Homo sapiens: one gene and its partners. The protein of the gene in region 3 interacts with the protein of the main gene of each other region in a pairwise test. Each region holds a gene or a part of one and is shown on either strand. Other genes may lie near its edges.

Region 1 (8,168 bases), on a different chromosome or scaffold from region 3:
GTTATAAGAAAAGAAAATGAAAACAGCCGAAAACGGCTCAAAACAGGGACATGACGAAGGAAGGGACACTGTATAGTGAGCAGGTTTACAAGATGCTTCCGGGATAAGCAGGAGGGAAAAGGCAGAAATGTCCACATAACCACAGCTGCGGCCAAATCCTCAGAATTATATAACAGCACGAAACATTAAAGAGGATTTTAAATCTGAGAGTCTAAGTGTTTTTCTCTACTTTTTTGCATTTTCAAAATTCTGTACCTGAACATCTAATTCCTTTTAAAACTAGGGGAAGTTTTGTGTAAAACAGTGAAAACGGCAAGACCCTGTCTCAAAAAAAAAGAAATAAAATTGAAAATACTCAAGAATATAGCTCCCCAAACCCACCAAACATCTGGGTACACCCAAGCTGGGTACAGCCCCAAGTGCCCAGGAGCAGGCCGCACGCCCTGGATGCACCCACACACCCACAGCCAGGGCTCCTGGGGCTCCCGAAATCATGCTGCCCCTCGGAGTGGGGCCAGGGGATGTCCCTGAGAAAGCCTGGGTAACAGGGACTCCTTGTTTCCTTGGTGAAGAAAGCCTTGAGGGAAGCGCTAGCACGGAAGGGTCAGCTACTAACCCTGCCTGGAAGGCCATGCTTCCTCACAGAGCTTCCAAAATACAGAACACAGTCCGTCGTCAAAGTTCTCACCAGCAACGAACACCCAAGAAAACACATCGCGCATCTCATCTGCAGCAAGGTAAGGCACTGCCAGATATAACTGAGCAAGACAGTACTGATCACTGCCTCGAACCCTATCTGTGCCGGAGTAGGAAGGGAGAACGATAGTACACCAAGGCAATAACCCCAGGTACACTTTTTCCTCTAAGACTCACTCCGCTTTCACAACAATGCTGAAGGCCGCTCTGTAAAGCCCATTCAATAGCTGTTAACAGAAAAGTCATCTTAGGCTGGACACAGTATCTCACACCTATAGTCCCAGTATTTTGGGAGGATCACTTGAGCCCTGGAGTTCAAGACCACCCTGGGCAACACAGGGAGACCCCGTCTCTACAAAAAAAACTTTTTTAAAAAAGAAGAAAAAGTGATCTTACACTAAATTATCAGGCTGATCAGCCGCTAATGCTACACTGCTCCGGCACCAGTTAGCTCAGGACTAATGCTAGGAAAGGCACAGGGTGTAATTTCCGGCAGGTAGTGAGTGTCTAATGAGGAAGACACCTCAGAGTCACAGCCACAGTGGCCACATGGCCTTAGATGGCCCCGTGGGTAACTCCTGAGTCCCACACAGCATGCAAATATTAAAACCCACTCACTGTCCAACCAGCAACCACGAGGAAAGACCAGCCAGTAGCTGGCTCACTGCCACCCCTTCCAATGGTCCCTCCCTCCTCTCTAGGCTGCAGCCACCAGGGAGCCCTTCCTCCTTTCCGGTGTATCCCTGATGGCAGGCAGGGAGGGACAGGAGGCCCCCGCTGCCTGTCCCACTCGGCGCCTCCCCCGCTCAGCTGAGTGTCCAGCCCATGTGCTTGTGGATGTTCCCACCCACAGTTTCTTGGTTTTTTTGTTTCGCTTTTTTGTTTTTTTTAAAGCAGGAAACACCCTTAAAGCCCGACTTTTCTCTGAGGTGCTCAATTACATTTAAAACCGTTTCCTGTACAAACAGATCACAAATACTTTTACAACTGCACATTCTCCTTCCAGCTTACCTGTGAGCTGTTTTTCTCTCCAATGCTATGGGTATCTGTTTCAGAAGCTCTGTTGGTATCTTGTGGTGTCTGCGAGCGAGGTGGGCTTGGCGATGTGAATAGAATGGGAAAAACAGAACATCATGTGAACATTCTATCATTAGAAGCTCAAACCCCAAAGGCAGTGAACCGCCTCCGTGATGAGGGGCTCTAGCCAGTCAGCGTACGCGTCTTCCCTTCCACCCAGCACCTGCCAGAGCCAAACTCTTCCTCAGCCCTTTTGGCTGAGCACGACAGGAGTGAGCTAGCCAGTCTTCCAGAGAAGACGCAGGGGCAACTGGCAAGCAGCTGGCTTTGTCACCTGCCGCCTTCACGGTCTGGGTCTGTTGCACAGCTCTCAAGGGCACGCGACCTTTGACCACTGTCGGCCACTCTACCTTGGAGTCACTCAGAAGTACTGCTAACCAGGGACCGCTCCTCCTGCGACCACAGCCCCGCTGAGGCGCGTGAGTGCGTTTCTCAGAGTGGGGTTTGTGGCTGTTCCGCTGCCTACTGATGACTTGAACATGGCTCCCCACAGACTAAGTCCCAGGTCACTGCATCCCCAAAGAGGGCGAGGCTCCTATATAAGGACGGACTGCAGCAGGAGCCAGTCCAGAACGCGGCCCGAGGCGAACAGCAGCCCACTGTCCTAGAGGTGACACGGGCACTTCCAGCTGTGACTGTCACCCACTGAAGACATCGGCACTGTAACACATACACTTGTTGATGCGCGCCTACCTGTCACAGTGAGAGCTCTTGGAGCTACTCCGTCCAGACTCATGCTGTGCGTCCAGCAGTATTTTTTCCATGTCTCCATTATAAATAGAAACCGAGGCTGGAACGCTGCCCCCGTTCCCATTATTGCTGAAGTGCAGTTCTACCCAGGAGCCTGATGGGGACAAAAAAAGGGGCGCAGATGGAATTCTCTACCCACTCTGGAATCTGCTCTTGATATCTAACCAGCCTGCCCTTCCATTTCCAAGAGGTAGCAATGGTGCCACACCAGGAACCATCCCTCAACCCCGACTTGAAGACATCCCTCTGCCCACTCTCATGGCAGTGACTGTCCACGCACACACTCCCTGGGTACAGGAAGGAAGCCCCCTGGGGCTGAGACCATGTATCTGTCCAGCTCTTGCAGTCCCTTTATACCAAGCCAATGTCCAATAACTCTGCTGAGTCAACAGAATCCAATTAGAATACTTCCTTGCAGTGAGCTTTTATAAGAAAAAGGCTATTATTTGGAAAAAGAGGTCTTTAAAAAAAACAACAACAACACTAATGTCAACATAAGCTTAAGGGATTTGAAGTTTTCTTTAAAAGGTTTAAGCTCTATTTTTTGTTTCTTTTCGAGACGGAGTCTCGCTTTGTCACCCAGGCTGGGGTGCAGTGGCACGATGAAGGCTCACTATAATCTCAAACTCCTGGGTTCAGGCCATCCTCTAGCTGACACCTCCGGAATAACTGGAACTACAGGCATGCACCACTACTCCTGGCTATTTTTTTTAGGAGATGGGGTCTCGCTATATTGCCCAGGCTAGTCTCGAACTTCTGGGCCCAAGCAGTCCTCTCACCTCAGCTTCCCAGTGTGCTGGGATTACAGGCGTGAGCCACCATGCCCAGCCTCTATGACTTGCATCGTGTGGCTTACTTTGCATTTATATAATTTCTAACGAGGTTGAAGACGGTTTTACAAGTTTGCTAGCCATCTGGATAGCATCTTTTTTGAACTGGTTCTTCGAATCTCTTATTCTTTTCTATTATCTGTCTTTCTCTTATTTGTGGGCATCCAGCAGTATTTTTTCCATGTCACCATTATAAATAGAAACTGAGGCTGGAACGCTGCTCCCGTTCCCTTACTGCTAAAAGTGCAATTCTGGGATAATTCTGTATTCTAGATATATGTTTTTCTGCATTTAAATATGTTGCAAGTAACTTTCCCTCGGTAGCTTGTTCTTTTCACTTCTGATGTCTTCTGATGTACAGAAGTTCTTGATTTTAATTCAGTCAAATGCAGCAATCCCTTCCTGAGCTGAGATATTCTATTCTATTATTTTCACACAGCTCTACTGTTATGACAGTCACATTTAGATCCAAAATCTACATGGATTAATTTTCCCATTGATGTGAGACGGATGCCCCATTTACTGCAGACAGCTCCCGCCTCACTCTGCGCTGGCTGCTTCCTGTGTCAGAAATCAAGCGTGCATATAGGCACACGTCTATTTCTGGGCCCCAGATAATCTCTCTACTTTGTGTCATAGGTTTATTTATTTAAAGCAAATCTGGTAGGAGCTTCCTCTGGTAGCGTATGGAGGATGGAGTGCAGTGGGAGGAAAGTGCAGGCCACAAAAGACAGGGAAACTTATGGACGAGAACAATGGAATTATCTCATTTTTGCAGTCACTATAATTTTAGTAAGCAGAATAATCACCCTGAGCTGCTGACTGTCCTTAAACCAACACAGCACTAATAACACCATGCAATTAGGGGGAAAGGAGCAGCCTCTTCATCCGTCATGTTCGCTGGAAGCAAAGGCAGGTGCACAGCTTTCCACACACACGAGGCATCTCTCCTGAAAGAGGGCTGGCCTAGGCTCCATACGCCACTTGTTGCAGAGTCTATTTCATATTAACCAGAAAAAAGCAAACCGAAGGCCCAGGAAGGAAAAGTGGATTTGCAACTTATGCCATCAACAGTCTCCCAGTAAGCTGCTAACGAAATGATCACACAAATTTTCAAATGAACGCATGATTGTTCTCTTTGGCCTCTCACGTTGCCTCATGTCCTGGCCTACACGAAGCACATCCCTAATACAAAGGCAAGCCAGGGTCTGTCTCGGAGCCTGGAGCTCAATGGAGGAGAAAGGCCCAGGCCAGTCTGCCCCACACTCTGGCAGAGGCTACATGGTGCCTTCTGAGATGTACAGACCACACCATTCCTGAAGCCGCTCATCTGACCAGACAGTATTGCCAAGTACTCTGATGTTCACTAGCCCTCCTTCCCTCTCTGCGGTTCAAGATGCCATGCGGCCGGCTAGCCATGGCCTGCCCCTGAGAGAACGGCACCACAGCCTCTGTTTTGGCCAGCTGTCTTTCTCCGCTGAATCTACAGTATTCAGATTCTGGGCCTGCTTCAATTTACTTGACTAAAGTGTTGTTCAGCTATCTGACGATATGGAACACAAATGCAACTTGAAGGTGTGGTGTCTCTTCTCTGATGCCACTCTTAACATCAAATGTGGGACACCAAGTCACCACCACCGGGGTGTCCAACGATTCAATTCCATTCTATCTACCTAGACTTAGTGTGGAGCCCACAAGACTGTTCCCACAGATGCAAGCAGAGAATGGGGTGTCCAGGTTACCCGTATTTCTGCCAGTGCCTCTACCTACTCAGGGGATCCCACACACCTGCCTCAGGTTCAGTAATTTACTACAATTCACAGAACTCAGAAAAACTCTTTACTTACATTTATCAGTTTACCAGAAACAATTCCAGGGCAGACAAATGGAAATGACATACAGCCCAGATCCCCACCTACCCCACACGTCCCAACCCTAACCCCAACCACACTCTCTGCAACCAGACTCCCACTTACCCCACATGTCCCAACCCTAACCCCAACCATGCTACCCGCACCTCATGGCTCCCCCATCTCCATCTCCAGTCCCCTCCCCTCCTAGGAGGGGCTGCCCTGGGAATTTCTACCTCAAGTAACTATCCTGGGGCCACCCTTGAGCCACTGTATTAGCAGTGTATTCTGAAGGGGCTCCTTACAACTTACACCAAAAATGGTTAACCAAGGAGCACTTTTGGAGTACACTGCTAATAGGGTGACTTTATGAATAACGCACACACTGGTCAGGTTGTTCTGCCTATGGAGTCACCATCTTTTTACTGTTTTACTTTCTTTAATAAACATGCTTAAGACACTTATTGGCACAGCGGTTCATGCCTGTAATCCCAGCACTTTGGGAGGCCGAGGCGGGCAGATCATCTGAGGTCAGGAGTCAGAGACCAGCCTGACCAACATGGTGAAACCCCGTCTCTACTAAAAATACAAAATTAGCTGGGCGTGGTGGGCGCCTGTAATCCCAGCTACTCGGGAAGCTGAGGCAGAAGAATCCCTTGAACCTGAGAGGGGGAGGTTGCAGTGAGCCGAGATCATGCCACTGCCCCCCAGCCTGGGCAACAATAGCGAAACTCTGTGTCTCAAACAAAAAAAAAAGACACTGCTCAGGAAGCCCCAGGGGTTTAGGTGCTCTGCACCAGGAAGTAGGTAGGGTCAAGACCAAACACATACTGTAATCTATCACACAAGGGGCAGGCTGAAGACAACAGGGAGAGGAAGATGAAGGAGAGACAAGTGTATCTCTGTCATCCTCTGCGCTACTGCAACAGAATCCCACAGACTTAGTGATTTACGAACAGAAACTGATCTCTGTTCTGGAGGCTGGGAAGTCCAAGATCCACGCACCAACATCTGGTGTCGGCTGAGGGCCTTCCTGCCTCATCCCTTCAATGAGGCTACAGAGGGACCCACCTCCCTCCATCCAGCCCCTTAGAGCACTAATCCCATTCACTAGAGAGGAGCCCCTATGGCCGAGCCACCTCTTAAAGGCCCACCTTTTACTACCATCCCACTGGCAACATGGAGGAACACATTCGAACCAAAGCAGTGCTTTTTAAACATCACCCCAGAAAGGACCTAAAAATCCAGGAAACAAGGAAAAAAAACTCACTCCAGATTGTCCATGGCTAATGACTTTGGGCCCAAAAGCTGTATTCCCAGGAATGATTTACTAAGGGACAGGAGTTTTATTATTAACCCACAGCAACCGCGTAGGAAAGGAAGGCACTTCCTGGAGAATGGAGCGTGCTGTGTATCTACTCACGTGTTACAGTTCTCCACTCGGATCGTTCACCTTTTCAAAGAAAGATGGGCTTACAGTAAGGTTGCTTAATAACCTTAGAAAACTTGCTCATAATCACAAGCAGTTTACACTTCAAATCACTGTAGTATAATTAGGCCCCAGACGGAAAGGTGCTGCTGTTGCTGCTGCAAGAAAAGCCCTCCTTCCTAATCTCATTTCGCGTCCCTCTCATGTTCCTCCCCCTCCTCACTCACTTATAATTTACATTGCTAACAAGACACACAGCCAGTAAATCTTACCTCCCTCCTATATCAAGGTAGATGAGATTTTGAAAAGCCTAGACTATAAATATTTATATCACAGTACAAAAAGAAAACTGATAGGTCTGCCTCAGAGACAAAATACAGTCCAACAAGAGTTCTTAATCCATTTCTTATTCTCACTTTGTGTAAAAAAAAAAAAAAAAAATCATCTGACATCCAGCTTTTCTAGGTGCCCAAAGCAGTTCTCCCTCCAGTGACAGACTCCAGGGAATCCCTTCGATTCACTGCCCTCTGTATGTCCCAGGGCAACTCCCTGGGTCCCATTCCTCAACATGGATTCATGGGCCACAGCCACGAGCCCCACGTGGAGTAAACACAGGGCCAAGTTCTCAAGGCCACCCTATGCCCTAACCTGGGGTGACAACCTCAACTCTGGCTATGAAGGGAGAATCACCTGTGGTGTTTTTTCATTGTTCTCCAAAAGCCTAGCCTCAGCCCACTCTGAAAGTGACTATTTGGGATGCTGGGGTGGAATCCAGGCAAATAGATTGAAAAAGCTCTGGGATAAATGTCAGAACAGAGGGAGGCAGCATCCCAGAAAAAAAACCTGAAGCAGAGGAGCTGTGAACCCCCGAGGGAACTAGCACCCCAAAACCATACAAAGGGCTTCTTCCCCAGGGGAGGTGGGCTCTAAGAAATTGCTGTTTTACCTTTAAAGCTTCTCAGGTTAGTGGGGAGAGAACAAAAGAGACCCGCCTGACAAAAGATTTCAAGTATCAAGTCAGCTGGGTAGGTAAATCAGGTCCCTGGCTTCCAACGGGGCTCGTTTCCCTCCACCTTCCTGTTGCCTCCAGGACCTCTGGCCTCCTCTCCTCCAGGACCCTCCAGGGCCTATTGCACGCAGCCTCAGGCATCTGGGCTCCAGGTATCCCACTGCTGCCTCATGCAGAGACCTTGGCTTCTCCTTAAGTGTTGTTGCCAGCCTTATCTTTCACTCCACCTCTAGAACCTCATTGTGACCATCTATGAAATGCAAGTCTTGGACGAGAATCTCGATGTCTGCAACCCCTTCAGGTCTCAAAGCACACAATGCTACAACTCCACTCCAAAATAAGTAGAAAACATCTTTTCCCCTCATACAACTTTGCCCATGGTGAGTTGCCTCTGACAAGAGAGAGAACCATCTGCCAGTTGCAGACACAGCAGTGGGTGAAGAGGTGAGGGCTTGGATTATTAAACACGGCCCTCCAGAGTAAATGGGCATGCACTTTACTGAACTGATGCCCTCCTGGTGAAGACA
Region 2 (8,168 bases), on a different chromosome or scaffold from region 3:
TTCTTCAGTTAAGTAAGCAATTTAATCAGAATATTTGAAATCATACCTGTTGGTCAAAAATACATTTTGAGAAATATGGACACTGTATACAGGTACATCTCAGTTGGCTTTTTGTGTGATAGCTGTGATTAAAACTTCTGAATGTCAGGCATTTTACATGTATTATAATGCAATCCTCAATGTTTTACAGATGAGAAAACTGAGCTTTTGAAGAAAACGGCCAAAAGTCACAGAGCTTCAAAGGGGTTGAGCCAAAATCCAAATTCAGGGCCATCTGAATAACCAATATTTTTGTTATTACATGCATGCATGCATTCATTCACTTATTTATTTAATAAATCGGGTCTTGCTCTGTTGCCCAGACTGGAGTACAGCAGTGTGACTACAGCTCACTGCAGCCTCTTAACTCCTAGGCTCAAACCATCTTCCTGCCTCAGCTTCCCATGTAGCTTACATTTATTTTTATCAGACTACACTGACACTTTTCTTTGAGGTTAATATTATATGGGACTAAATCAATTCAAAATTTCCTCAAAGGGCTATAAATTAAGGAAAAAGAACCCCATTATTTTATGATCAGTTTATTCCTTTCACTTTAAAAATGCCTTCCCTTACTTAAATATCTAAAACCTAGTCTCTCTTAAGTTCTAACATAAGGATTTCCAACACCTCCAAGAAGTCTTTTGTGCTATGCCAGGCTGCACTGACTCTATCATGGACATTATTATGTATAGGCTAGATGGTACAGAGTATTAAGATATATGAGCAATACCTCTATTATGTGTAGGCCACTGTACTTACTGTGGGATTCAAAGCAATCCATGCACTTATAAATTCTTTGGAGAGACAAAATAAAACATATATACATTTTTTTATTTGTCAATTATACCTCAGTAAAGCTGGGGAAAAAAGGAGGAGGCATTTCAGGTAGGAGATATGATTTGAACTGATTTGAACAAAGACAGAAATAGGACTACACATGAAATATTCAAGAAATGCTGCTTAGAAGGCCAGGTAGGAGTTGGGTGGGGATAAAATATTTACATCAAGGGAAAAGGAGGTAAGAACTATTTTCTGGAAGGCCCAGAACATCAGATAGGAGAAAGAAATTAGATACCAGATACAGGTTACATGCTATCCAGGTAGATTATTATCTCATTTATTTCTTACAGCATTAGGATTGAATTAGGTATCACTAGCTAGAATTTTATATATGAGCAAACCAAGCTGGCTGAGTGATATATATAGGACTCCACCCAGGTCTATCCTATAATGAAAGCCTGACCTACTTTTTTCGAAACCATACTCTTTCCCAAGGAGTCTGAATATCTTAATAGGATAGGTGGCCAGTGAAATTCTTCTCATTATCTAAATCATTGCTTAAGGAGATTAATCTGACAGTGCAATATAGAATATGATTATGTATTTTGTGTCCTTATATGAAACCTAAGGACGGGAGCTGGAATACATTTGACCTGTATATCCTAAATGTCTAGGTGCACTGATTAGCATGTAATATTGTCTCCGTATATGTACTGACTGAAGTGAAAATTAGTTTATTATCAACTTGTTAAAAATTTTGTCTATATTTTATGTTCTATCCGAGGTGCTACTTATTGATAGAAGTTTGCAACAAAATATGTTTCTAATTCCAATTCAATCTGATGAAAAGATATCTTCCTCTTATCCAATCCTCCTCATACCTAAAAATTTCTGCCACTTACAGAATTATTGGAGAAATTGTGAAAAACTTCCGTGAAGATGTAAACTGTACTCCATAGTCCAGTTGTTCCCAATGAGTTAGGAGCCTTGCTTTACCCTGGTCAGGAGTTTCGAAAGGTGTTCCTTTCACTGCATGCAAAAATACGTACATCCCCTGGAAAACAAGCAAGGGGTTATAAATGATCAATATTAAATACAAAATTAGTCTTTGTCAGTAGCATTAACGAGGTTCCAAGCTGTTTGTGAGAGTGTGTGATTTAACTGAGTTCGTTTTAAGCTTTCATATAATAGTGAAAGGCTGTAGCCAGTTTCTTTATAATAAAATAGAACTTTCTGGGGTATAAAAATATTAAGTGAGAATTGGTAAAAGGTCAACTGAAAGTAACCTGTTTGCATTTCTATTCGTTAAACTAAAAATAATTATCAGGGTAGCTTCATATCTTTACATTCAGATTTTCTTACACTTTTCCTATTAGGAAATAGGATTACTTTTTCCCCAATGTACAGGAGGTTTTTCTTCAGGGTATATTAGTAAATTTGATGATACTTAAAAAATGATAAAGACATACAAAGTGGTAGAAAACAATAAAATGATTAAAATCTATTGGGAAAAATAGTTTTGAGATATTTAATATGATGACTGCCTTTGCCTTAATAGTTCTCTTCCAAAGCAATAAAAATAGTTTGATATAATAGGTATAATGTTCCACTCAATTCCCTTTTTAAATCGCTATTGTGCCTCAATAGCATTTCTTCTGAAGTCAGTTTTAAAAACTCAAAGCAAATAACATTACTAAAAGCCATTCTGTCAGATCATATGTCTAAACATATAATTTTTTTTATCAATAGGGTAGAAAAAAACCAATCTATAGATTTGGTTTCCTTGAGATTATGATACCCATTTAGACTCATAGGCAGTGTTTCATTCAGGATCACTGCTTGAGGCACTTTATGTAAAGGGATAATGCCTAAATATTATCATGACACAAAGTTTTTCCTTCTAGACGCCACAATGTGATGTCATTTTTCCTACCTCTACTTTTAATGATTATATAGAAAAATTAGGGATTTGAAATTTTATATGATACCAACTTAACCAAGCCCTTCCTTTCAAGGCTTAGTCTACTTCCTAGTTATTCCAGTAGGCAATTCAGAAGTCGTTTAGCTACAATAACACGTAAGCTATGGAGGAAAGGACTCATGTTCAATTGGATTTAACCCATCAAACATTTAATAGGTGGCTTATATGTACAAGACATAGGACATATATGCACATATGAAATTGAATGAGATGTACCCAAGCCTTGGAAAAATTCAATCCTCCAAGAGATGATAAGGAAAAAAAATGCATAAACAGCTAGAAAGTAGGGCAGAAATTGCTATCAAAGGTACAATCAGAATACTCAGCAAATGGCAGGGGAGGGAAAGGTTCCTTGTTGCTGTGCCAAAAGTCTTGATGCTACTTCATTACCTCATTCTTAAAGGTTCAGCTCAAATAACAATTCCTTAGAAAAACCTACCTCATTAGTAATAATTAATCTCCTCTTTATGTAGTTGTATACAATTTTATTGAAAATACGATTACAGTACAATATATCATGTTAGAGTTGTTTGCATGATGTTTGTTTTCCCATTAGCCTGAATACACTCGGAATAAGCACTGGGACACCGCAAGACATTAGACATTGGACACTTCCAACATTAGAAATGTTGGAAGATGACATTACGCCAAGGAGTATTTATTCTGTAAGCTCTACGAAACCATTTTCATATGGACTTTAAAGTGAATTATAAAACAGAAAGTATATGTTTTCAAATCATCGGGGGTATAGGACCCCCAAAAAGTTAAGAACATCTATTCCAGACCACATAGATATTAGAATATAAGAGAATAATCATCCTCTCATTATTTCCTTCAAACCATATGTACTTAACTAGTGTTTAGAATATCAAAACAGTTTATTTTATACATCTTTTCAGTGAAAAATAATAAAATCTTATCTGGCCATATATCTACTGCCCCAATATTTTTTAAATTGTTTTTATGTAAAAATGTTTGTGATTATTATTCCTCCATTAAAAGAATTAGAGAACAAAAGTATGTAGCTCATGCTTAGTCCTTACTAAATACCTACTGAATCAAAATGAATCATTCATTTTTAAAGCTGGGCCAAGAATCCTGTGAAGCATTAATACCTCTAAGGGTGAGGTAGCACTTAATAAAGCAACCACTGTAGGTTTCTACTGTACGGTTCAGAAAGGCAAATATACTGTATTTTTCTAACCGGGTGTAACAATTAGGTCCATTTTCTCATTTTTAAAGGCATTCAATATGTACTTCAGATTTTTAATTGGTTTAATGTGGCTATATTCAAAGGAAACTTAAATTTGGAGTCATGTAATTGCAACTCCGATGGCTAATTAAGTTTTTAGTGTGGTGAACTAATAACAAATAAATCAGAAGTTTGCTTTTCTATACAATGTCAATTACCAATCATTTGTCCATGGTCAACCAACTTGAAACACGGTTAGGGGGTGGTGGTGGTACAGGGATGGCATCTAAACCGTGGTGGCTCACACTCAGCACTTTGGGAGGCCGAGGCGGGCAGATCACCTGAGGTTGGGAGTTCGAGACCAGCCTGACCAACATGGTGAAACCCTGTCTGTACTAAAAATACAAAAATTAGCCAGGCATGGTGGTGCACACCTGTAATCCCAGCGACTCAGGAGGCTGAGGCAGGAGAATCGCTTGAACCCAGGAGGGGGAGGTTGCAGTGAGCCAAGATCGTGCCACTGTACTCCAGCCTGGGTGACAGAGTGAAACTCCGTCTCAAAAAAAAAGGACTAACTTATTCGGCAAACATTTAAATACGTTCTTAGCGATACAAAAATTAAAACATAAAGAGATAAACTGCTAATTATAAAACAATGACAAACACATGATAAAAGAATGCAGCATGGGAGTTGTGTAGATTCCTGGAGGGACAGTTTTGCTGTAGGAAATCAGGCAGAGCAGGAAGGAGGGAGAGGTATTAAAATAGTAGAGACTGGGCCGGGCATGGTAGCTCACACCTGTAATCCCAGCATTTTGGAAGGCCAAGGCAGGTGGATCACCTGAGGTCAGGAGTTCAAGTCCAGCCCGGCCAACATGTTGAAACCCCATCTGTACTAAAAATACAAAAATTAGCCAGGTGTAGTGGCACATGCCTGTAGTCCCATCTGTTCAGGACGCTGAGGCAGGAGAATTGCTTGAACCTGGGAGGTGCAGGTTGCAGTGAGCCAAGATTGCGCCACTGCACTCCAGCCTGGATGACACAGAGAGACTCCATCTCAAAAAAAATAAAAGTAGACCCTGAGTACTATGGCTCACTCATGCTTTGGGAGGCTGAGACAGGAGGATCACTTGAGGTCAGGAGTTTGAGACTAGACTGGGTAACACAGCAAGACCCCCATCTCAATCAGTCAATCAGCTGAGCATGGTGGCACACACCTATAGTCCTAGCTACTTGGAAGGCTGAGGCAGGAAGATCACTTGAGACCAGGAGTTCGAGGCTGCAGTGAGCTATGATCATGCCACTGCACTCCAGCCTGGGTAACAGAGTGAGACCCTGTCTCTGTAAGAAAAACAAAATGGCTGGGCATGCTGGCTCATGCCTGTAATCCCAGCACTTTTGGAGGATGGTGCAGAAGGACTGCTTGAGGCCAGGAGTTCAAGACCAGCCTGGGCAACATAGTGAGAGCCTATCACTATTAAAATAAAAACAAATTAGCCGGGTGTGGTGGCATGTGCCTGCAGTCCTCAAATTTATTGGGAAGCTAAGGTGGGAGGAGCTATGATCACGCCAGTCTCTTAAAAACAAAAGAGTACTTGGTCCAGGTGAAAAGAAAATATAGTAGAAAAGCTTAAGCCAAAACAATAAAATGAGAGCAAGATGATTTTCTTTATTGCTAGTGTATAGCCTCTATTTAGAGATGGTTGAGACAAGGTGAAGTCTCCTTGTTTCTGCACTGTTATCAACTGGTCTTATATGTCACACAAGAAACTTGGATTTTACCATGACTGCAATGGATGATCACTGAATGACTTAGAGTATGACTTGAGCAAACATGCATTTTTAAAACATCACTCTGCCAAGCTGGAATGGAGAAGGGTAGAGAAGCATCAAGAAGACTATTTGATTTATCTGAGTAATTTACTTGAGGAAAAAATGAGGGTATGGGGATCAAGTTGAGAGTAAAGCAGTAGAAGACAGTGCTCTGAGCAAATGGATATGGAATATAAAGGAAAAGAAGTTATCCTAAGACTTAGGTGACCTTGTATTCTTGTTTGCATACGATGGTTCTGATTATACCTAATCTCTTGTAGTAGTTATTACCAAAGCTCCATTTTACTCTCTAAACAGCCTGTTTGGACTATACATTACAGGTTGAGTATTCCTTATCCACAATGCTTTGGAGCAGAAGTGTTTCAGATTTTGGATTGTTTTGGATTTTGGAATATCGGCATATACATAATGAGATATCTTGGGGACAGGGCCCAAGTCTAAACATGAAATTCATTTATGTTTCATATACATCATACACACACAGCCTAAAGATAATTTTATATAGTATCTTTAATAATTTTGTGCATGAAATAAAGTTTTGATTGCATTTTAATTGCAACCTGTCAGGAAGTCAGGTATGGAATTTTCCGCTTGTGGCACAACACTGGTGCTAAAAAAGTTTCTAATTTTAGAACATTTTCTATTTTGGGTTTCTGATTAGGGATGCTCAACCTGTATATTAATTGCTTTACCATTAACATTCAGCTGTCTGGCTTGGCCTTTAGATAAGATTAGTAGTGAAGCCAGAGGATCAGATTGTGGGTGGTAAGGGAGTAATCAGGAATAAGATAAGTTCCATTTATACTTGTTTGGTTTAAGGTGCAAAGTAATCTGGTGATAAAAATAAATAGGAGCATCCTTATTCTACAGGTAGAAACTGAAAATATGGGTAGATGAAGTAACCTAGGTAGAATACATAGCATAAGAAGAGATGAAGAAAAGAACCTTGGGAATAGAAATATTTAAGAGAGGAAAAGAGAAGGAAGACCCCATAAGAAGAAAGAGAAGGTCAGAAATATATGCCGGTGAAAGTGATCCTATAGAAGCCAAAGGAAGTTTCAACAAAAGTGAGATGATTAGTGTAAAATATTTCAGAGAAGTCACTATTTAAAAGAAAACATCGTTTGCTCTTACAAAGTCTATCACATAAAATGGACTAAATGGACACATATTTATCATGTCTACCAGCACATCATTCTTATCCTCCTCCAGTCAACTTCAAATATACTCCAGAAGATAGAAAATAAATATTATTGTTATTATTTGAGGCAGGGTCTCACTGTCACCCAGGCTGGAGTGCAGTGGCACGATCTTGGCTCACTGCAACCTCCACCTCCCAGGCTCAAGCGATTCTCCTACCTCAGCCTCCCGAATAGCTGGGACTATAGATGTGCTGCCACCATGCCAGGCTAAGGTTTTGTATTTTTTGTAGAGACAGAATTTCAGGCTTCACCATGTTGCCCAGGCTGGTCTTGAAATCCTGAGCTCAAGTGATCTGTCCACCTCAGCCTCCCAAAGCACTGGGATTACAGGCATGAGCCACCGTGACTGGCCAAAATAAATATTAATTTTTAAAAATCAATTTCTCCTGTTTTCCTGTCTTAATGCTTTAAGTTCATTTTAAAAAATATCTTTCAACAAATGTACTGCTAAACTGGATTCAATTAAAATCCTCAACTAACTGTATTTCCTCCTTTTCACGTTACTTTAATGGGTTATTAAAGACAAGAAAAGTCGCTGTCAAGATTTTTTGTTTTTGTAAAAGGCAATTTCCAGGGCTGCATAATATGGTCAGTACAGTCAATCAAAACTTTGATACTCTGTAGAGCTAACACAAGAGAGTAACAAGCAGCAGCTAAGGCACCATAAGATCCTGAATCACATAAGATGATTAAGTTCAAAACTTAAATACTGAAACAGTGAAGTATACTTACACTATTTAGATAGATAAGTTAACAAGGATTGAAACTAAAATGATCTATTTTCTAGATTCTATACAATGAGAAAAAAAAAAGTCTTACTTAGAAAAAGGACCAATGTTGAAATAAAGCGTGAAAGAAAAAAGAAAATTCTATCCCAGATTAGAATTCTTCAAAATTAAGTCTTATATACTAAAAACTACTAAACTATACACTTTAAATGGGTGGATTTTATTGCATGTGAATTATATCTCAAAAAAGCTGTTAAAAAAACTAAGTTGTATACAACACAAAACCTTAAGCTTCTTTAAAAACTATGTTTAAACACACATGTCATAAAGTTTACCATCTTAGACACTTTTTTTTTTTTTTTGAGACGAAATCTCACTCTGTCACCTAGGCTGGAGTACAGTGGAATGAT
Region 3 (8,168 bases):
ACAACTGTCAAAACTTTAAAGCAAGTAAGGTGTCGTTCAGTGGGTGAATGGATAAACTGGCAAATCCAAACAAATGCCAAAAACAAAATGAGCTATCAAGCCATGAAAGAACCTTAAATGCATATTATTAATTGAAAGAAACCAATCTGAAAAGGCTACATACTGTATGAAAAAAGGTAAAACTATGGAGACAATAAAGAGATCAGTGGTTGCCAGGGGTTGGTGGTGGAGGGAGAGATAAACAGGCATAGCATAAGGGATTTTTGCAGTGAAAATTCACTGTGTGATACTGTAAGGGTTGATACATGTTATCATGTCATCATACGTTTGTCCAAACCCATAGAATGTACAACACTAAGCATGAACCCTAATGTAAACTGTGGACTTTATGTTAAGATAATTTGTCAATGTAGGTTCATCAGTTGTAAAAATTTCCCACCCTCGTGGGAGATGTTGATAGTGGAGGAGGCTATGCATGTATGGGGATAGGGGATATATGGGAAATCTCTATATCTTACTCTCAATTTTGCTGTGAACCTAAAACTGTTCTAGAAAAATAGTCTATTTAAAAAAAAAAAAAAAAAAAACAGGCTGGGCACAGTGGCTCACGCCTGTAATCCCAGCATTTTGGGAGACCGAGGCGGGTGGATCACTTGAGGTCAGGAGTTCGAGACCAACCTGGCCAACACGGTGAAACCCTGTCTCTACTAAAAATACAAAAATTGGCTGGGCATGGTAGTGCACGCCTGTAATCCCAGCTACTCGGGAGGCTGAGACAGGAGAATCGCTTGAACTCAGAAGGTAGAGGTTGCAGTGAGCCAAGATCGTGCCATTGCACTCCAGCCTGGTGGACAAGAGCAAAACTCCGTCTCAAAAAAAAAAAAAGATAAATTATGTTTCTGCTAATTCTGGTTAATTCTCAAGAAAAAAAAATTTCCACAGTAATTATCTTACTATAAATCATTGCATTAAAGGTGCCCTGTTTACTAATTATATGCCAGCACCTACATTTGTAACTAGAAGCAAGTTCACATGTTTTTTCCTCTGCAGTGGTTTCCTCAAAATATCTTTAGACAAATCTCCATCTTTGATTTTCCTGGTATTGAAAGGCTACTAGCCACTCACTACTCACCTGCCTGAGATAGAGAAAAAAACTTGAATACTGTCCAGCTTCAGGAAGGTATGAAAGAAACACGGTGATGCAGATTAGTAAGACAGTAGAATCTTTTCCAACTTTCTTCAACGACTGAGAATAAGCAGAAAGAACACACTTAAAATGCCAATACACATTAATGTTGCCAATGTTCTGGGACATCAGCTTCATTATTTTGATCTATTAAGATGAATAACAAAAGTCAAATGGTTAATAAAAGGAAGTTCTATCACCATCTTTCTGAGGAAGTTACAAGTCTTAATTTCAGAGGTATATATTTCAAATCATATAGCTAAAAAAAAAAGCAAAAAAATAAACCCACAAAACACACTTACTCATCTTTGTTAACACACTGATTAAAATCCCTGAACAGATCCCGAACTTCCTATAAACAGAACCTGGAAATATATTCCTACAGAACCTTTTAAGAAAATCACTTCTCTCAATTCATAATGTAACTTCTTTAAAGCCATATTCAGTACAGAGCGTTTCCGTATAGGTAAATTCACTCTATTCTTCAAAGTGTTCATGTTCAACTTTTATATCTGGTAGACAAATAAGTACGCTCCAGCCATAAGGTCAAACTGGTAAGAACTTGTTGAATGTTACAACCTTGTTGAAAAATCCTTCTTACATACATTGGATTGTTGAATAGAACAAAATGGTAAGTTAATACCAAAGGAGTGGAAAGTGCTACAGAGCTTCTAGCTCATCAGACCATAGCTTTTATGTAATTAATAAGCAAAAGCAGCTAATGTTGTTGAGACTTTGCTGGGCAACAGACACTAGGCTAGTTAATTTACACACATTAACAGTAATCCCCACGATTGCCCGGAAAAGTAAGCCACAGTAGCTCTACTTCACAGAGGAGCTTTGATGCATAACTTGATCACTACAAAGGAAGGTGGGAAGCCTAACTGGCTGGCTCCCAACCCCACTACTGGCTTCCTTCTCTAAATATTTCTTTTGGTGTCTGACATTGTGACAATAATAGAACAGGCAGGATCCCTAGGTCATGCCCTCAGGGGGTATTTTAGAAAAAGTAATTTCTGATTGATTACATGAATTTTTCTGAAAGGTAAACTTGGGGGACGAAAAGCAGAAACCAAACTGCTGGTTCTTTTTTTGTCTACAAACTTTTTTTTTCCCCAAGAACAATTTCAAACCAGGTAGGGTAGAGAGAAGGTGAGAGATAAGATATGTTTTCCAGTGACACACCACCTTCCCATGCCAAAAAAGAAGGGGGTGGAAAAGGAGAGGAAAGGGAGGGAGGTAGAGAGGGAGAGAGAGACATATTATAGAAAACAATACTCAATCTGTAACAAACAAATTAAACGTCTCTGGTCAAAATTAAAATAACTCATTCAAACCAAAGGCATTTATCCTTTTTGAGTTAAAATGAGTGAAAATGACCACTTCAAATGACCACTTTCACTTATTTTGTTTAAAAAGGATGAAAACAACCATGCAAAAAGAAACTCTCTTCCCAAACTCTCACCAAGAATTAACTAGACATTTTCTCTCTCTTCGTTTATGACATGCTTAAGTACCAATTCTATATATTTCTTAATACAAAGACTAACTCAATCCCTTACTTGCAATTAATTTTTTCTATTTTTACTAAAGAAATAAGTCAACAACTGCTAGGATCCTTGAGGCTGCACATACATACTTTCATTTGCTTGGCTTAGAAAGACATTTAGGAAAGTAAATATTTCCATATTTTTATTTACCGCAAAAGGGTCTGCTTGTTTCCAAGAAATCTGAGCTCCCCAGGAAACCGGTCTCATTTTCTCAGGCAGAGATTCTGGAACAGCCACTAAGATGAAGCAGATGTCCAGAAGAGCCACCACTGTGGCCACCAGCACAACGAGGCTGTCTCCGTAACTGGCAGAAAGATATGCTCCAATGGCCGGGCTGCTGACAAGACTAGCCGCAAAGGTGGCTGAGACCTGTGGGAAAGCACACTCTCACCCAGGGTCCCATAGGTGAACACCTCTGGGGAAAGCATATCCTTACCCAGGTCTGCCTGCTGCAGGTGCACACCTTCAGGAAAGCACACTCAACCAGGGTCCCACAGGTGCATACCTGCAGCCATGCTTCCCTGGCTTTAAGTAAGACAAAAGAAATGTGTTGCATATAAATTTTAAGAATGAAAGAGAATTAAAGTGATTTAAGAATGTGTTCATAAACTATTAACTGGAGATACCCTGCAGAGCTACAAGAGTAAAAAAGGATTATCTTATTACAAACAAAAATTGTAAAAACCTTCCCCACAAATAAAACATTAGCTCTTTGGTCTTCTTTAACTGGGGACCGGGGATGTGAGATGGTATGAAAAGAATTCCTGCAGGGCTGATGATAAAACTTACAAACTACTCAAGTACTGTGCTTGATTTAATCTTCTAAAAACACTGCACTGTTTGAACATTTTATCATTTGGTGGTCATTTCATTAGCACTGCCTGGGGTCAGGGGGAACCCTCTGCTATTCTTAGAAAAAAACTATTAACAACAACAAAGAATTTGTTGAGGTGGAAGTTGAAGCTTTTTGACTAGACAGCTGTAGATTTCTGTCTCTCTGTCACCACCTGACCCTATCCAGTATAGAGACCACAGAGCCAGCTAAGCACACCCACAACCTGAAGCCACCTTGAGCCCCTTCACAGTGCACTCCTATAAGCATGTGGAATGTCCACTTTATTTTAGAACACAATCTGGATGGTCAGATGCTTATCGGGCAAACTCCAAATTATAACCACACTAAATGTCAAATGCATATCTATAAGTTAGCTTTTTAAACTTCTAATGGATTTTATTAAAAATCCCAAAATTTCTGGCAATAAAAAATTCTTTTTCATCCATCATCTCCCAACTGAATTAAAAAACACAGTATATCTGAAATTAGTATTATACTAAAAGTACTATAAAAGCTAAAACTCAAGTATTTTTGGAGGGGAAAAAAGAATGTGGAAAATTCCAATGTGGGGAATAGGAATCCTTTGTTCAATATTTACTGAGAATCTACTATGTACCAGATGAAGAAGACAAAGCTCTTGCCCTCAGGTTTTCCCACTTTATTCAAGAATATCAGGGCAACCAAATAACTGCATTATAAACTGCAACGACAAGCAAACAGTTATGGGAACATTCCTACACTCTTCTCAGGTGTTAAGGGGGCACTGCTGCAGCATCTTCAGGTGTTAAAGGGTCTATGGCCTCATGAAACTCTATGCAAAATGTGTCTATCTTAAAGCCTAAAGTAGCCTACTTGCTTAGTCTGTGTTTTTATCTAAACTCCTCTTTCACTTAACATTCAATACAACTCTGATGAATAAATCTAAAGAATGACTTCCCCACAACAAACTCTTAGTAAGTGTTAACTCACTTATTAACATGACTAATCATTGCCGTAGCCCTGAAAGAATTACCACTTTCTTGGTTTACTGAAGAAGTCTGAGTAAGGAAGGTGTACACATTTTTATACTGTTCTTTAATGGGTCTCAAAATGCTCCTTAGAACTTGACTGACACGTTCTGTAATTAATTGGCAATAAATTCTCCTATATCTAGAAGATAGGTAGACTGCAATCCAGGCAGCCTTGCATGCTGAGTTGCTTCTGCTGGCTGGGAGCACACTTCAGCTAAGTGCCGTCTCAGTCTGGATGTGTGCGCTCACTGATTGCTCTCAATGCCCCTGTGAGTAGATATTAACCCTAACTGCCATTATACAATGAGGAGCTGAGCTGGAGAGGGTAATTAAGTCACAGGCGCTTCTGGTTAGAACTCTCTTAAATCTTTCCTGAAAGCACTACTGCTCAGCACAACAGCTGTGTGAAGGGTTTCCCAGCTGAAAGCGAGAAACAAAAATCAAATATTGCAGAAAAATGAGTATCTCAACAGGTATTTCCCATGCTGTAGAAGAAAGCTGTCCCTCACTACTCTGTTGGCCAAGCCTTATGGGCACAACTTGAACAACCTACCTTCTTGTTTTTGTTTTTTCTTTTCTTTTTTTTGGCAGGGCGGGGGGAGGTTGTTAATTTTTGGAGTTTTGGGGGACATTTTTTTTTTTGAGGCGGGTCTGACCGTCGCCAGCCTGGAGTGTAGTGGCGCGATCTTGGCTCACTGCAACCTCTGCCTCCTGGGTTCAAGCAATTCTCCTGCCTCAGCCTCCCAGGTAGCTGAGATTACAAGCGCACACCACCACGCTCGGCTAATTTTTGTATTTTAGTAGAGACGGGGTTTCACCATGTTGGCCAGGATGGTCTCGATTTCTTGACCTCATGATCCGCCCCCACCTCAGCCTCTCAAAGTGCTGAGATTACAGGCGTGAGCCACCGCACCCGGCCTATTTTTGTTTTTGGTGTTCCTGAGTGAGCTCCAAATCTTGTCTTCTTCGAAGCTTTCCTATCAGCTTCTATCTTTGTCCTCCTCCATCACGACTCTGAAGATGCCCCTTTTTAGGGCATGACATGAGAGGGACATTCAGGAGTGGAGGGAAGAAGCAAGGAGAGAGAGAGAGGGAAGGTAGAAGAGTCAGAGGGAAGTGGGGTTGAAAGAGTAGTTTTCAAACTACTGATGTCTAAAGTCAACAAGTTAAAAATTGTTGTGTTTTGTGGAATAGTAGTAACCCATTTATATGCCCATCATTGATTCAGGAAGTTATTCATTCAGTCAGCAATGAATGAGAACTTACTCTACTCCAGGAAGTAGATTTAAAAGACCCAGGAAAAGGAGATAAATAACCTAAGTTTCTGGCATTCAATCTCCCTCCAACCTATTCCCCACAACCTAGCCAGATCATCTTTCTTCTTCCACTTTCTTATTCTGAATATTTTCAAATACAGAGGAAGACGGGAGAAGGGTACCAAGCATACTTCCATGTCTCACAGGTTCAGGCATGGAACACACATGCCCACACATGCACATCCACATGCTATGCTATCTTTTCCCCTGAAACATCTGAAAGTAACTGGCAGAGTCCTGACACTGATGTAAAACGCTTCAGCTATCTTCTAACAAGTCTTTCTTCTACATAATCATAATGCCATTATCATGCCTGAGAAAATCAGAAACACTGTCAGGTTTTAATTATCAGAAAAAAAGGTCTCCTATAACTTTTGTTATTCAGCAACTATGGATTTGATGAATGAGTGAATGTAGTCCTTTTCTACATACCATGTTCCAAATGTATGTCCAAAACACACAACCACTAATAGAGTTAACAATGGATTAACATTGCTGAGGTTCAGCACCTCTCCAAATTAGGTGCACAAAGAGCTTGTGCAACTTGACTGCTTAACGCTCCTCCGGGGATCAGATAACAAGAAACAAATCAAACTAATTTTTTAAAAAATTCAAATGTTCAATTGTAATCCCCAATGTTGAAGGTGGGGCCTGGTGGGAGGTGATTGGATCATGGGGGTAGTTTCTCATGAATGGCTTAGCACCACCTTCCTTGGTTGTTAATAGTAAGTGAGTTCTTGTGAGATCTGGCCGTTTAAAAGTGTGTAGCACCTCCCCCTTCACTCTCTCTTCCTCCTGCTCCAGTCATGTGAAGATGCCTGCTCTGGCTCTGCCTTCCATCATCATGAGTAAAAGCTCCCTGAGGCCTCCCCAGAAGCAGAAGCCTCTATGCCTCCTTTATAGCCTGCAGAACTGTGAGACAATTAAACCTCTTTTCTTTATAAATTACCCAGTCTCAGATATTTCTTTACAGCAGTGCAAGAAAGGACTAATAAACTCACTTTCCAGTAAATTTCTAATACAATGTTAATTACTATTCTGGTTAAAAAATATATATAGTCTATTATCTTACCCATCCATAAGCTGTACTTCGCTCGTGCTCCTGAGTGACATCAGCTACATAGGCAAATATAACAGAAAACGTGACCGAGAAGACTCCAGACACAGAAATCATCGCAAAATACCACCTATAAAAAGATTATTTTAATGACCCAAGGGAAAGGGAGTGTATGTTCACTTTCATTACCTGAGCCAAAGACATCATGTAAAGATTACGCACCAAGAAATAAGTATACTTGTATATGTATGTATACTTAAATATATCAAAAAAAATTTAAGTTAAGACAGGAAGAAGTAGAAACATTCTAATTTCATCATTGTTCAAAGGGGGTCAGTACATGCCCCCTAAAAAAACAAAAGAAGAGGAAAAACAAAGAATAAGGGGATTAGGTAAAAGTTATATTTTTAAAGGTAGCCAACAGACAGAAAAAAAACTTCTCAAATATCCTAGCTGTAAGTAAGGAAAAGACATACAACAAATGATTTGAAAAGATCTACATAAAAGCAGAAGTCATAATGAAAAATATTAGTGTACTTAAGACTAAAAATTTATATCATGTGATAGATGCTTTTTTTAAAAACCCAGTTTAAAATTAACAAAGAAAAACCTTATAGAACAAAAAGTGGGGTTTACTCCAGGATAGAAAAATATTTTAATATTTAAAAATCTATTAATATAATTATTCATTTTAGTAGCTCTAAAGAGAAAAGGTGGGCGGATCACGAGGTCAGGAGATTGAGACCATCCTGGCTAACATGGTGAAACCCTGTCTCTACTAAAAATGCAAAAACTTAGCCGGGCGTGGTGGTGGGCGCCTGTAGTCCCAGCTACTCAGGAGGCTGAGGCAGGAGAATGGTGTGAACCCGGGAGGCGGAGCTTGCAGTGAGCCAAGATCGCGCCACTGCACTCCAGCCTGGGCGACAGAGAGAGACTCCGTCTCAAAAAAAAAAATAAGAGAAAAGGCAAATAATATCCATTAATGCTATAAAGTCATCAAATAAAATCTGACATGTACTCTTAATGTTTTTTAAAAATCTGTGGATACAATAGGAATATTTTTCAGTCTAAAAACCAGCTTAACACCTAATGATGAAACATTACAATACTCCCTTTATATATATGAAGAAAATAAGCCCAAAATCTTCACTTTGATTTACTAATATTCATTAGTCAAAGCAATTAGCAAAAGCAGTGAGCAGTATGAAAACTGG
Region 4 (8,168 bases), on a different chromosome or scaffold from region 3:
GGCTGTAGAACATACTGGCCTTTTCTGTGTCCTGCATAATATATTCCACTAAATGAAGTGTGCTTTGGCTTTTTGTATTTTGTTTTTTTACAGAGGATTATTTTCTAAAGAGATGTTAGCTTTCTAAGCCAGTTGTTAAAATTCACATCATTTCCTGCTTTGTAGATGTTTAACCCTCAATGCTGCATCCTTGCTTTGCAATAAATTTTCCCAAGTGTTTCAGGCTGTGCCAACATAGTTTTTGCTTCCCCAGACTAAGCAGTCAAGTTACAGTGTTTAACAGTTCAAAAATTTAATGAACTATAAGACACACTAAAAGATGTTTGGATTTTAGATCGTTATAATGTAGTATTCAGGCCTTTTTTAGGCCAAGGATGATCGCTTGGGATTATTTTGTTTTTTGCCAGCCTGGCGTGATGCTGTGCACACCGTCAGTTCTTAATAAACATTGACTTGCCAGATGAAACTTCTTCCTGGTCATTCTACCATATGGAGCTATAATACATTTTTCTGAGAGATAATGGCCCATCAGCCATACTGTTTTAGATGGGAGGGTAAGAAAGATTTGTATGTGAATGGCATTTCATAAGTGCTAGTCAAATTACTGAAGAGAAGTCTCTGAGTCTTTCAAACGCCAGCATCTTCTGACACACTGGGCATTAGCTGCATGCAGAAAACTAGTTAATTCAGGCACTAGGAGTAAAGCACATGATGAAATTAAAAGACCTGACGCCTATCTGTGAGGAGCTCCCCTGTTAGCAGGGGCAGTTGAAAACACGTATGTGCAAAATGATTCCAAATCTGAGCAGCAAAGAAACAGTGGCATAACCTTTTTTTTTTTTTTGGACAATTGAAACTGGAATTTAGGTGGTAAAAACAGCACTAGTGGAGCAGGGCACAATGACACACGCCTGTGATCCCAGCACTTTGGGAGACCAAGGCAGTGGATTGTTCAGGAGTTCACCATCCTGGGTGACATGGTGAGACATTGTCTCTACAAAAAAATATAAAAATTAGCCGGGCGTGGTGGCGTGAGCCTGTGGTCCCAACTACTCTCTGGAGCCTGAGGTGAGAAGATCACTTAAGCCTGGTAGGTCAAGGCTGCTCTCTATCCTGGGTGACAGAGTGAGAGCCTGTCTCAAAAAAAAAAAAAACACGAAACAAACCCCAGCACTACTTGGCAGGAGAGCTTGTGATTGGCAGAAAAGAGAAGGGAACGCTCTCACAGCTGGCGAGGACTTGGCTCCTGCCTATAGTCCACTTTCAGAGCAAAAGTAGAGCCACCAGGATGGGCGTTGGTGTTTCCCTCTACAGTGTGGGTAACAGGGCAGGCCCTGCGCTCAGTACCCACATTCCCAGCTCCACTGGACTTCCAGCTCTGTGATCACTGGACACACTTCCAGCTGTGTGATCTTGGACAAGTTATTCTACCTCTCTGGGCATTTTTTCATCTATAAAATGGGGAGGCCTGTGGACAGATTCCTTGAGCACAGGAGTTGGAGACCAGCCTGAGCAACATGGTGAAACCCTGTCTCTACCAAAAATACAAAAAAGAGAAAGAAAGAAAGAAAAAAGCTGGGCATGGTAGCATGCACCTATGGTCCCAGCTACTCAGAAGGCTGAGGTGGGAGAATTGTTTGAGTCCAGGAGGCTAAGGTTGCAGTGAGCTGAGATCGCGCCACTGCACTCCACCCTGGGTGACAGAGGGAAACCCTGTCTCAAAAAAAAAGAAAATGCAGAAGCACAGCCTCCTCTATCCTTAGTTAACTCTCAGTCTACTTGGAGAGGTAAACTATAGATAAAATAGCTAAAGGACACGAGCAAACATTTAACACTGCATTAAGGGGAAGCCATGGAAAGGAACATTTGGAACCAGCTAGGTTAGTGAGTAGTCAGAGAAAGCCTTTAGGAGACACCCAATGAGGTCTTGAAGGAATAGCTTTTCCTAAGAGGAGATCATGATACAGAGACAAGTATCGTTGGAATGAACGATACTTGTGGAGTGGAACTCATTTGGAGAGTGACAGATCTGAGGAAGTTCCTCTTCTGTGTGGACAGAGGCCACCCCAGGCCTTTGCTTTGCTTTTTCTTATCCATTAGGGTCCGCTGATTCTTTCACCAGCCCCTCCGGCTGTTCTGGCTTGGCCTTGGCCAAAAGACAGAGCAGTGAGACCCCAGGAACTGACTGATAAGCAAAGTTAATCAAGTGCCTGTGTTTCTTTCACAGGACTCTGACACCACCATACCAATGGACGAATCACTGCAGTTTAACTCCTCCCTCCAGAAAGTTCACAACGGCATGGATGACCTCATTTTAGATGGGCACAATATTTTAGATGGACTGAGGACCCAGAGACTGACCTTGAAGGTGGGGTCCCTGCTGGGGGACAGAGAGAAGGCCTCTTGTTTTAGCCTCATCCAACAGTTTAGTAACTGTGTTTATATTTTGATTACGTGTCCTCAAATTGTGATATTTTGATGACAAGACAGAGCCCTTGAGTTTGGGATCCTTTCTGTTGGAGTTGAGTTATTGTGAGCCTGAAAGTACCCAGTTCCTTTGCCAGTGCTTGAAACAAACCATGAAGTGGCCTCTCTTAGGATCCAGGTCTTTTCCCATTTACTGAACTTATCATGAAAGTGAGTGCTACTACGAGGGGTCCAATCACAGGCTGAGAAATTGTGTTACAGAATCTACTCTTGGAAGAATGAAGACGTGGCTGTCCTTTGGTACCTCGCTTTAAGGTGGCTTTCCCTTAGGACCCCTACTGTGGACTGCCTTATAACTAAAACCTTTTGTATTTTAGTAACTGAATCCCCACTGTGCAGTGTTAGGGCTGCCTGGTTGTTTGCAGTAGATTAGAGCTTTAGAAGCTTCTAGAGCTTCTAAAGCCCGTGCTGGTGATCCCAGCGACTCTTCACTCCCTAGCCTTAGGTATTCCTAGAAGCCCTGACCAGTTGGCACTGCTGAGACTCCAGCCCCTGGGAGTGGTTTACAGAAACATTACACAGACTCTGATGTCAGTCATGATGTTTCAGCCTCTGCCCTTTTCCTGTATCAACCCTGATGGATAATAGGGCGTGGGTTCTGTCTGTTATCAGGGTGTGGTCCCCTGTGAATGAAGCACTCCCAGCCACTGAGCTGTGAGAAACAGTCACTCGGAAGTGTGAGCTTTATCTTAGTTTTTGTTGGATCATGTTGAGTCTGTCAGCTCCACAGGACTTCAGTACGTTTCTGAACAGTCCCTGCCATCTCTACGGGGGAGAGGGTCAGGCAAGCTGCAAGTGACACTCACCTCCTGCTGACAGTTGCAGTGTCTCAGATGGCCTGGAAGGGTGGTCTCCAGCAGCCTGCTGGGCGCTCCCCTTTCATGAGAGCCACCTGCAGTGACCTGAACTGATACATGTTGATTAGTCTGCCCTTTCTTTAGAAAACTGCTACTCTCCTTTTCATATCTCAGAAAAACAGTAGAGGCCTTTTAGGACCAAACTCCATGTCACACTGATGAAGAGCCAGTGGGGGTTAGAGCGTCCTGTTAAGGCACATGCTAACTTCCCACTCAAGTCTGGCAGCGCTGGGGCATCAGCACACCTCTTGCCACCCACACTGATACCAGAGGGGAAGGCTGTGAGGTGGCTGGGGGTTGAGACTTGAGGTTTCTAACTTTCCTCTGCACACCTGTGGCTACCTGGTGTTTGTCTCTTGATTCCCTCCACCTGCCTCACACCCTGCCTCCGTCGGGATTTTCCACCTACACCATTCAAAAGGAACATAGGAGAGGGCATGAAGGGGCTAGGCTGAAGCACTCTGATGACTGGGGCCAATTTGTGGCTGAAAATGAATACATTTTTTGAAATTTATGGTCATTTTCAAGTGATTTAGAAGGTTGATCCTTAGCCTCATACAGTGATGAAATAATCTGTGTGTTCAGAGCCAAGCAGGACTTTAGCAAGAGTCTGATTGTATTGTCACTATCTCGGGGAAAAAAAAATACAAATACATTTCTCTGATCTCTGATGGCAATGAAGTTTGACTTGTAATTTCTCTGGCTGAGGCTTCTTAATTGCTTTCTGGGCAGAATGTAGATTTTGGATTCCTGTCCATGATGCCTAATGTTGATCTCACTTTCCTTGTTTCTCTCAGTTGCTCATTAATGTGTATTTATTAAAAAAAAAAAAAAAGGATATGGGGCATGAGGTTAGATGCCATGCATATAAGTTGCAGTGGGTGATATGTGCTGAGTGACTTGGGGTCTGCCCCGGCATTCACTTATACTTGTTTCTTACTAAGAAATTGAATGTGCTTTAAGCTGAAAATTAGAAAGCAGTAGGGAAGGACAGGCTGGATGGTTTGGGTTGTTGGTTTAGGAATAAAATGCCCTTTTGTTTTGGTGGTGGGTGATGCCATCTATAGAAGGGTTTTAGGTCATTGTGTTGGTGTCTTTCCGTCTTTCCCACTTGAGACCCTCTTGTAAATATGGACTTGACCCACCCATTGTACTCAGAAGAAACCTCAAAGATTGTACTCTACAAAGTAAATAGGTTGGTATCAATGATTATTGGAACTAGAGAGCCGAGGACAAGTTTTTTGATGTTGCCTTCTTTTTATAGTATAAAATATTCTAATTTTAAGTATTTTTGTTGAGATATAATTTACAGACAGTAAGGTATACAGATCATATTTTTACAATTCAGTGAATTTGGGCAATTGTATCAGCCTTTGTAACTCACACTCCCATCAAGGCCCGGACCATTTCACCTCTGAAAGATCCCTCGTACCCCTTCCCAGTCAGTTGACCCCTCTGCCCCAGGCAGCCACTGTTGTGATTTATTTCACCATAGATGAGGTTTTCTTGTTATTGAACTTCATATAAAGGTATTCATGCTACTCTTTTCTATGTGGCTTCTTCCTCCCAGTATGTTTCCAAGGTTCATTCATATTGTTACCTATTTAATTCCATGTTGGTAGTCAGGTACTTTTTATTGCAAAGCAGTATTCCATTGGTACAGGTTTACCATAGTTTGTTCATTCATCTTGTGATTAGTGACACCATTGTTTTCAGTATGTATTTATTTATGTATTTTTTGAGACAGGGCCTCCTTCTGCCACCCAGGCTGGAGTGCAGTGGTGTGATCTTGGCTTACTGCAGCCTCGAACTCCTGGGCTCAAGTGGTTCTGTCACCTTAGCCTCGCAAGTAGCTAGAACCACAGGTGCACACCACCACACCTGGCTAATTTTTTTTTGTAGAGAAGGGGTCTTCACTACGTGCCCAGGCTGATCTCGAAATCCTGGCCTCAAGTAATCCTCCCACCCACCCCTCCCAGAGTGCTGGGATTACAGGGATGAGTCCCTGCGCCTGGCCTGTTTGCAGTTTTTAGATATTCTCCTGTGTTTTTTTCTAGAAGCTTTAATTGTGGCTTTAGCTTTTATGTTTAATTCTATGAACCATCTCAAATTAATTTTTATGTATAATGTGAATTGAGGTTCAATTTTTACACACATATCTGTAAGAGAGATACATATATATAAAATACATACCTGTGATATTATATAGTCAGTCGTTCCAGCACCATTTGTGGAAAAGACTTTTCTTTCCACTTAGCGTTGCTCTGGTACCTTGATCAAAAATCAGTCGACGACATGAGAGTGGCTCTATTTCTGGCTGATATTGCTTTCTGTGTATTCTGGGCATGACCAAGAGAATGTCTGTTGGCAAAGCTCCATCTCCTGATGCCATTCACCCACTCTTGGTAAAGCGACTTGATGTTTGTTTTTTTTTCTGTTCTCTTCTGCCCCAGGGGACTCAGAAGAAGATCCTTGACATTGCCAACATGCTGGGCTTGTCCAACACAGTGATGCGGCTCATCGAGAAGCGGGCTTTCCAGGACAAGTACTTTATGATAGGTGGGATGCTGCTGACCTGTGTGGTCATGTTCCTCGTGGTGCAGTACCTGACATGAGCCAGCCACGCTCAGTGGCTGAACAGCATTCCCACAGCCTGCAAGTGTGTGTGTGTGTGAAAGAGAGAGGGGGGCCCAGAGGCCGCCTTTTGAAATGTTTGCCTGTCTGAACTGTGAAGACACTTGGGAGTGATTGTGGTCTAATTTCCAACCTGCTCTGTTTTCTGTGACATCTTGGAGGGGGAGCTAGTGCCACCACCATGCGCGGTGCTTAGGAAATGAAAGAAGTCCCGGGTCTGTCTCTCTCACTCTCGCTCTCACTGGGGGAGGGAAAGAATGGCTTTGGTGGCTTTGTTCACATAGCTGATGCGTGCCCTGGGAAGGTGTCCACAGTGAGCCCTGTGTGCAGGACTGTCCACACGGTTCACACCTTGTCACCATCAGGCCTTTCTGGCTCCTGATAGGGTGGAGCAAAAGTGGAAAGGAAAGGAAAGAGGCCTTTTCTCACAGCCATTATATTAAATAGTAGGTCGATTCACATCCTCGTGCTCCTGGCCACCCTCCCCTGTGCCTCAGTGACATGTAGATGACTGACTGCCAATACTTGTCACCATTCCCTGGAAGCAGCTACCTAGGGGAAACAAGATGTAGTGCTATTGCCGATAACAAGTAAGATTTTCCACACTACAGCTGGGTGTTTCTCTTTTCTAAAGTGAGGCCAGTGTTATTTCCCGGGAGTGTTCAGTCTTGACCCTAGTCACTGATTTTTTCTAGTTGTTAATAGAGTGGTTGGCTTTTAAGGTTCAGAGACTGTGGCTTGGCACCTGCGCCCAGGCTTTGTGGGCCTTTGCCCCTTAGAAAGTAGCTGTAGGCAAAGATTTGTGATTTTCCAATTACAGTCTCAGCTCTAGTTTTAGTATCTCTAATTCTTTGGTTCCCTTCTCTTCCCTGAAATATATTAGCACCTGCCAGCCAGGCCCTCATTTTGCCCAGCCAGTGTGGGCAGATCCCACCGTGGAGACATCTGTAGTGTGTATGTCCTTGTAACACTCTGTTTTCAGGGACTACAACCTTTTTCCTTCTGTGACCAGCCCCGGATTCAGGCTGTACTAATACCAGGTATATTGTGGAATTTAGTATAAAGGCCAATCTGTCCTGAAGTCCATCTAATGTGGTGAATCACTGAAAGTCTCAGAAAGACCTGGTTAGTGTATGTTCTCATTTACCACAGGCCTACCAGCCCTGGGCACAGCAGCTTCATGGCAAGACATAAAATGACACTCAAAATCCTTCAGATCTGGAAACCGGCTCAGTATTAACCCTACCTTTGGTTGTCCTGCCCTACCTGCTCTGTTAGTTTCTTGTTGCTTGAACTGTCTTCTGTCTTATTTCCCTTCCTTTCTGTGTTCCTCTTCACCTCTCTTGTTCCCCTCCCCGCTGCTCTGTAGTCATGTTGGTCCTTTCAGGCACCTCTGTGGCATAGCTCCCCTTTGGTAAGTTTTCTTAATTGTCATAGATTAACTGAGTTTCCTGGATGCTAATTTCACACTTTCGGTTGGAGGAGATCTCCATTGTTCCTACCCCTCCGGGCCAAATGGGCCCCAGGTTTCCAAGGAAGGAGCAATCTGTGACTCCTAAAATGGGTTGGGGCCCTGCCAGAGTTAAAGCAGTGACTGGAGGGTGGACTGGGGGGTTGCAGCATCTTTAGACCTAGATCTGTCTAACTCTGGGGAGGCACATTGACATTTCCATTACACACAGCACTGCTGCGGTGCCAGGGACCTAGCGCAGGACTTTTGGTAATCCATAAAATGGATTCTGAGACTGCGACGGCAAGGCTGTCCTGTCCCCCAGGCACCCAAGGATCCTGCCAGACAGCACACTTTGGAGGAAGGTCTGCAGGGAGCAGCTGAGCCATTTGTTCTTGAACTCTGGGAGGCAGAAGTCCCCGCACCCATCATGCGTGGACTGATAGGACATCTTTTCGTGGTGTGCACCAGTGCTTTCCACACTTGACAGTGGTTGGCTTTGATGAACCCTCATGCTGCACCTTCAGAGCCAGTCCTCTAGTTTGGAATAAAAATTGCAGAGGTGGTTTTTGGGTCTTTACCACCTGCGGCTGGTGGACAGCAGCCAGTGTGTCTGGACACCCAGGGGCATTGAGACTGCATGTTGTCACATGACCACTTCTCTTCACACATCTGCTTTCAGTGCCTGGTGAAAAATAGACCTTGGCCTAACAGTGTGACTCTCTCCACCGCCTCAGTGT

The links.
Region 1: the proteins of SLC71A2 (region 3) and BNIP3 interact in binary tests that used the Homo sapiens proteins (3 or more experiments, as listed by UniProt).
Region 2: the proteins of SLC71A2 (region 3) and ORMDL1 interact in binary tests that used the Homo sapiens proteins (3 or more experiments, as listed by UniProt).
Region 4: the proteins of SLC71A2 (region 3) and GOSR2 interact in binary tests that used the Homo sapiens proteins (3 or more experiments, as listed by UniProt).

What each region holds. Positions count from the first base shown.
Region 1 is NC_000010.11:131,971,327-131,979,494, forward strand, and holds part of BNIP3 (BCL2/adenovirus E1B 19 kDa protein-interacting protein 3), read right to left. Parts: intron 2,618-8,168; coding exon 2,467-2,617; intron 1,793-2,466; coding exon 1,708-1,792; intron 208-1,707; exon of another isoform or gene 1-207. UniProt on the Homo sapiens protein: Apoptosis-inducing protein that can overcome BCL2 suppression. May play a role in repartitioning calcium between the two major intracellular calcium stores in association with BCL2.
Region 2 is NC_000002.12:189,773,841-189,782,008, forward strand, and holds part of ORMDL1 (ORM1-like protein 1), read right to left. Parts: intron 1,877-8,168; coding exon 1,725-1,876; intron 275-1,724; coding exon of another isoform or gene 265-274; exon of another isoform or gene 9-264; intron 1-8. UniProt on the Homo sapiens protein: Plays an essential role in the homeostatic regulation of sphingolipid de novo biosynthesis by modulating the activity of the serine palmitoyltransferase (SPT) in response to ceramide levels.
Region 3 is NC_000009.12:94,439,901-94,448,068, reverse strand, and holds part of SLC71A2 (hippocampus abundant transcript-like protein 1), read right to left. Parts: intron 7,085-8,168; coding exon 6,970-7,084; intron 3,106-6,969; coding exon 2,887-3,105; intron 1,247-2,886; coding exon 1,133-1,246; intron 1-1,132.
Region 4 is NC_000017.11:46,932,802-46,940,969, forward strand, and holds part of GOSR2 (Golgi SNAP receptor complex member 2), read left to right. Parts: intron 1-2,227; coding exon 2,228-2,368; coding exon of another isoform or gene 2,369-2,479; exon of another isoform or gene 2,480-4,021; intron 4,022-5,797; coding exon 5,798-5,959; 3' UTR 5,960-7,753; coding exon of another isoform or gene 7,754-7,812; 3' UTR 7,813-8,168. UniProt on the Homo sapiens protein: Involved in transport of proteins from the cis/medial-Golgi to the trans-Golgi network.